2 separate regions of the Homo sapiens genome follow, and region 1 is linked to region 2. Evidence: fine-mapped expression QTL. A gene starts in region 2. The other region holds a variant in brackets. All regions are shown on one strand. Distances are from middle to middle.

Region 1 (2,891 bases), 34 kb before region 2:
ATTTGCTAAAAAGTGAAATTTTTTTTTTTTTTTTTTGAGACAGAGTCTCACTCTGTCACCCACTGCAAGCTCTGCCTCCCAGGTTCACACCATTCTCCTGTTTCAGCCTCCTGAGTAGCTGGGACTACAGGTGCATGCCACCATGTCTGGCTAATTTTTTGTATTTTTAGTAGAAATGGGGTTTCACCATGTTAGCCAGGATGGTCTCGATCTCCTGACCCCGTGATCCGCCCACCTCGGCCTCCCAAAATGCTGGGATTACAGGCGTGAGCCACTGCGCCTGGCCAAATTTTTTTTTTATGGCTGGGTGTGGTGGCTCACACCTGTAATCCTAGCACTTTGGGAGGCTGAGGCGGGAAGATCACTTGAGGTCAGGGGTTTGAGACCAGCCTGGCTAACATGGTGAAACCCCCTGTCTACTAAAAATACAAAAATTTGCTGGGTCTGGTGGTGCACGCCTGTACTCCCAGATATTGGGAGGCTGAGGCAGAAGAGTTGCTTGAACCTGGGAGGCTGAGACTGCACTGAGCCGAGATGGCGCCACTGCACTTCAGCCCGCGAGTTCAAGATGGAAGGTACCAGGAGGCGCCCCAGGTAGGCAGCACAGGCGCCTGGAGGCTGCACCTCACAGGCTCGCATGGGGAGTCTGAAGATGCTCCAAGCCCAGATCACCCCACAGGAGGTGACAGCAGGTTGGGCCTGTGGAGGAGGCTCTACCTTGAGGGGCCACATTGGCTTCCACACCCCTTCACTGTCTGGGCAAGCTGGCAAAGGGCCCTGAAACCTGCCGACTGGCATCTCTACCTGCCACACTGTGGGCCAGGGTGCTAAGTTCACGGCAGCGTCAGCTGCTGTGCACCCAGGCACAGTGCGGAGCCCGGCCGGACTCACTCTTTTCCTAACCACCAAGCCTCCTAGGGGCCCAGTGGCCTCATCCTCAACCCCTTGCACCATCTCCTCTCACTGAGGGCTATAGATGCCCCAGCTAACCTGTCCCCATCCCTGCCCCACAACTGTCCACAAAGCCAGGCCATGCCCTCCTCAGCCTCCAGGGCCCCAGAACCTGCCTCATTACCTTCAAGCCCTCCAGCACCGGGGCAGTGTCCTTCAAGGTCTCTGACTGCAGGACTGTGTCAGGCATTTCTGGCTGTGGCTCGGTCCCCGGCCTTTGGGGAGCAGCTACCACACGTTCGGGCTCAAAATCCTTCTGAAAGGCAAGGCGACACCAGCCCAGCGCCC[G/A]CCATCACACAGAAGCAGTCTTCTTGCTCCCCGAAGCTCAGAACATATGGCAGAGGCCACACTGGGAGCAGGCCTGCAGGTGACATTGGGCAGCACACCTGCCACAGAAGGTCCCTAGGGAGGCTCCATGCAGCTGCCAGGTCACCTGGGGCCCTCTCCAGAACAGGCTAGAGCACCTTATCCATCTCTGGTCTCCCCAAGACTCCCCCAAGCTGCCCTGTCACTTGCAGAGCAGGAGGCTGAGCCTGTGGGTGGGCACCATGCATGTGACCCAAGAGGACCACAGGGCCCGCGTTGAAGAGGAGCCCAGAGGCTGGGGGAGCCTGCAGCTCCTCTGCCAGCGCCCCTCACAGCAAGTCCCTGAGGAGAGGGTGGGCACTGCCATATGCTAAGCTTGCCCCTCTGAGACGGCTAAGGTATATCTCCCATGAGCACCACTGTGGCCATCGGGGAGTCCCCATGTCAGAGTTGCAGCCCTCACACCCGGGCACCCTGCCTCCCTGACCACTCCAGGAGGAAATAAACATGCAGGACAGAGCTGCAGGGCAAGCATGCGGGAGGCCAAGACTGTGGGCGTGCGGGGGTTTCTAGGGAGGCTGGCTCAGGACAGCCCCACGCGGCACGGAGCAGGACCACCGCTTACCGCCACCTCCGAGCGCTTCTGCAGCTCCTTCTCACGGTGCTCCTGCTGGATGGCCGCCTCCTCCTGCAGCGTGGCCTCCAGCTTGGCCTTGTTGTCCACCTGCTCGCCCTCCACCTCGGCCACTTTCACCTGTGCTTCCTTTGCCTTCAGAAGAGGGTACATCTGTGGGTGAGCCCAGAAGCCACCAGAGGCCCCTGCTGCCCCTCACCTCTGTCCTGTGTCCTGTGTCCCCTGCCCCGTCACCACCTGGGCTTCACACACACAGGACAGAAGGCACTGCCGAGGTGCTGCCCGCAATTGCTGGGAGGCCCCTGGGCCGCCCTCTGCGCTCGCCCGATGACTCCTGACATGTGGGAAGGAGCATAGGCGCTGCTGACACAGCTCCAAGGGCCGCGGCCCAGATCCACAGCAGCCAACACGTGGCCAGGTCGGGACCACTGGCAACTGTGCCACACGGGGGATGGCAGGCAAGGGGCTGGTGAGGAGGGATGGAAGGAAGGGGACAGGTGGCTGGGTGGGGGCACTCGCGAGGGGGTGGGAGGCAGGCTCCTCGCCCATGGTTGAGGAATGAGTGCGCTTGCACACCTCCCCCCACCCCAGAAGAGCGGAGCCACCTATGAAGAGATGAGGTAAAAGGGGTCTCCGACAGCACGTACCACAATCTCTGGGAGGGTCTGCAGTGTGGACTTGAGCTGGTCGGCTGGAGAGAGGGTGTCCGGGAGGTACATGGCCCGGGACAGGATGAGCAGCGATGTGGGGATCTCCTGATGCAGGTGCAGGTCCAGCCACTGCAACCAAGGCCAGGTTCAGCAGATGGGCAGCCCCCCAACCCTGCTGGCCCCACAGCAGGTCCGCCCATCTCATCACCAGAATAGCTCTCAGAGAAGACAGTGTCTCAAGTTCTACAAGGTCTGTTTGTTGCTGTGCTGCGTGACCCGATGACGGCGTTAGTAAACAAAACACCAGAGAGGCTTGGGGGTCAGCAACCCCCACAGCGAGGACCCCAAGG
Region 2 (2,891 bases):
GGTTGCAGTGAGCCAAGATCACACCACTGCACTCTAGCCTGAGCAACAGATTGAGACTCTGTCTTTAAAAACAAACAAACAAACAAACAAAAAAAAACAAGAATTGGGAGGATACATTCAGGGCAACTTCAATCTATCTCTTTGGGGGTGGGGAACAGAGACAAGAATATTGAAGCTGGGTGCCTGGGCATGGTGGCTCCTGTAATCCCAGCACTTTGGGAGGCCAAAGCAGGAGGATCAGTTGAGCCTTGGAGTTCAAGACCAGGCTGGGCAACATACCAAGACCCTGTCTCTACAAAAAAACTACAAAAAAAAAAATTAGCTGGGTGTTGTGTGGCACAACTAACAACTTGGGAGGCTGAGGCAGAAGGATAGCTTGAGCCCAGGAGTTTGAGGTGCAGTGAGTATGATCGCACCACTGCACTAATTATTTTACTTGAGTCCCTCTTAGCAAGTTTTATGTTTATTCCAATTTTACAAATAAGGACATAGACTCAAATAAGTTGGTTAATTAGAGAGAGAGAGGAGGTGGGCACACCCTGGGACAGCATTCACTCCAGACAGCACCTGAGGCTAGGGGGGCTAAAGCCACGCACCCTGAGGACCCTCAGCGGCTCCGGAGTCCCCGTGTTCCCCGGGTGCCGGTCGCGGCCTAATCACACCACAGGGGTTTGTAGGTGCTGGCATCACCTCATCAGTGACGGACCAGGAAGGCTCCTGCAGCCCAGCAGGTCCTGCTCGCCGGTGTCTGCCCTGCCCACCCAGTCTCGTCTCCGGGACCCCAAACGTGACCAAAGGGCACGGCCGTCCTCGTGCGTGGACACGTTCCACCAAGCTTACTCGCGCAGGGCGCGCCAGGGCTGCCCAGCCCTTCAGAATTTTCCCACTGTCTCTGAGGCAGTGACCCGGGGGACCCGGCCGCCTAAGGTCACAACACACGGCAGAGGCCCAGCGGCTCCGCCCGGCGCTGGCGGCCCAGCCCGCGACGAGACCCGGGGCCCCACGGTCCCGCAGGGGCTCCGGAGGCCGGGACCACCGGGCTCCCCGCATCGCCGTGACAACCAGCCCGAACCCGCGGGTCGTCCGCGCTCCCGACCCACCAGCCGGGAGCCGGCCCCGCCCTGGGGTGCCCGCCGCTTACCCCGCGGGACGGTGTACCGAGGCGGCGGCGGGAGGCGGGCGGGCGCCCGGCCGCGGCAGCTCCTCAGTAAGATGGACGCCATGTGCTCGGGCGCGGCGGCCGCTCCGGCCTCCTGCGCTGCCTCCTTCTCCGCGGCGGCCGCGGCTCTTCGCCGTCCCGGCGGCGCTTCAGACCCGGCCCGCGCGGACGGCTGACAGAGGCGGCTGGCCTCGGACGGGAGGCGCTCTCCTCAAGGACCCGGCACCAGCGGCGGCCTTGTCCCGGCACAGACGTCCGGAGGCGCGGGGCGGGGCGGCCAGGCCGCGGCTCCCATTGGGCCCCTCAGCGCCCGCCGCTGGCCAGGTGAGGGGCGGACCGCGCCACCGCGGACTACCGGTTCCGGCGTGCACCGGGACGGCCTGCACGCTGGGGTGCGGACTACCGATCCCGGCGTGCACCGGAGCGGCGGACTACCCTGAGGCGCGGACTACCGGTCCCGGCGTGCACCGGGGCGGCTGGCTCCTGGGGCTCGCTGCATCCTGGTTCCCGTCGTACCGTGGACGCCGGGGCTCGCAGCGTGGCGGCCGCAGGAGCTGAGGGAGTCGGCCGCGCTTGCGCGGGGAGTGTCTTTTCGTCTCCGGGCGGCGGCAGCAGCGCGTGTGTCCGGAACTTTTCTGGGACTAAGTCCTGCACCCACGAGTAGAAAACGGCTCCTGGGAGCTTGGGGCTCCAAGGGCAAGTCAGGGGACGCTGGGGATGGAGGGGCGCCCTCGACGCCCTCGGCCGCGGTCCCTCGCCGGCCCCCCTGCTCTGTGGCTCTGCCCTCGGCGGTCTGCACTCTGGCGCGCGCAGCTCTGAGTGCCTCTTCCCTGCGTACCGGGCGGCGCTCCCCAGATACGGCGCTGCTCGGCGTCGGGAGTCCCCGTCACCACTGGGGGGACGGGAGCGCAGGGTCCCGCCCCGAAGGACAGGGCCATGCCGGCCCCTGGAGGCGAGGGCACTAGGCCGGGTGGCGGCGCAGCCAGCATAGCGGCCCCCCATCCCGGCACACCGCGTCCTCCCGTCTGAGCGGGAGGGGTAGATATGGGTCCTGCGTTGGCGCGGGGGGACCCCTCGTTTCGCTCTGGCCTAAGCAGCCCCTGGGGTCCCGCGCGCCGCAAGAGCGCCAGACTTCCTAACCTGGGCCATACCCTGTCCGCTCCACTTCCCAGTCCAAGAAGGAACAGCCGAAGCCCAGGACGCCAAGGACCTGGCTCGAAGTCTCCAGAATTCCCGCCAGAGCTGGGCTGGGCTCGCGGACCGCTCATGCGCCGTCTCCCAGGAGCCTCCCCCCAGCCCAGTTTAATAGCCGGCCCTGACCAGTCCAGGGGAGAGAGACCGTGCAGCCTCCCAGCAGACCGTGACCTCTGAGCTCCACCTTCCCCTTCCTTCCCTAAGATGAGGATCCCTGAGTTGGGGCAGAGAAAGCAGGCAGGGAGAAAAATGGGGACCTGCGGCGCTGGGGGCCCAGCTGGTGGAGATCTCCAGCTAGGAGATCCCCAGCACAGCACTTGCCCTGCCCTCTGTCTTGTTCAGGGATGTAACCTGCCTCCTCCTGCTTCTCCGCGGCACCTCAGGGCACCGCCTGGGGAGGGTCTTGTAGTGCACACTCAGCATCTCTGTTCCCTGGAGCGCATGGGGTGTGAAACGCCTGATGCCAGCCAGCTCCCCAGTCTTGAGAGGCTGGTTGAATGGCACATCTCCCTAGGAGGCTCCCTCCCCAGGGTCCCCT

Which allele goes with the higher level. Positions count from the first base shown, and alleles are read on the strand shown. Sizes are in standard deviations (SD) of each study's normalised expression.
In carriers of allele G in region 1, the expression in cerebellar hemisphere of the gene that starts at base 1,429 in region 2 tends to be higher than with A alone (large effect, 0.95 SD a copy in GTEx).

The links. PIP is the estimated chance that this variant, and not a neighbour inherited with it, causes the effect.
Region 1: its variant is the best candidate, but not a certain one, in a credible set for the expression of LETM1 in cerebellar hemisphere (GTEx, PIP 0.82).

Annotation. Positions count from the first base shown.
Region 1 is chr4:1,821,106-1,823,996 of GRCh38, forward strand. It overlaps LETM1 (leucine zipper and EF-hand containing transmembrane protein 1), which reads right to left. Exons shown (of 14, transcript NM_012318.3): 8 at 2,539-2,670; 9 at 1,883-2,026; 10 at 1,076-1,207. Among named protein-coding and RNA genes, the nearest start is that of FGFR3, 29 kb to the left of the region's middle. The variant G/A (reference allele first, on the strand shown) is at 1,240.
Region 2 is chr4:1,854,728-1,857,618 of GRCh38, forward strand. It overlaps LETM1 (leucine zipper and EF-hand containing transmembrane protein 1), which reads right to left and starts at 1,429. Exons shown (of 14, transcript NM_012318.3): 1 at 1,142-1,429. The coding sequence starts at 1,223. RefSeq lists silencers at 1-71, 866-1,055, 1,066-1,625, 2,026-2,245 and enhancers at 637-1,138, 1,776-1,845, 2,515-2,891.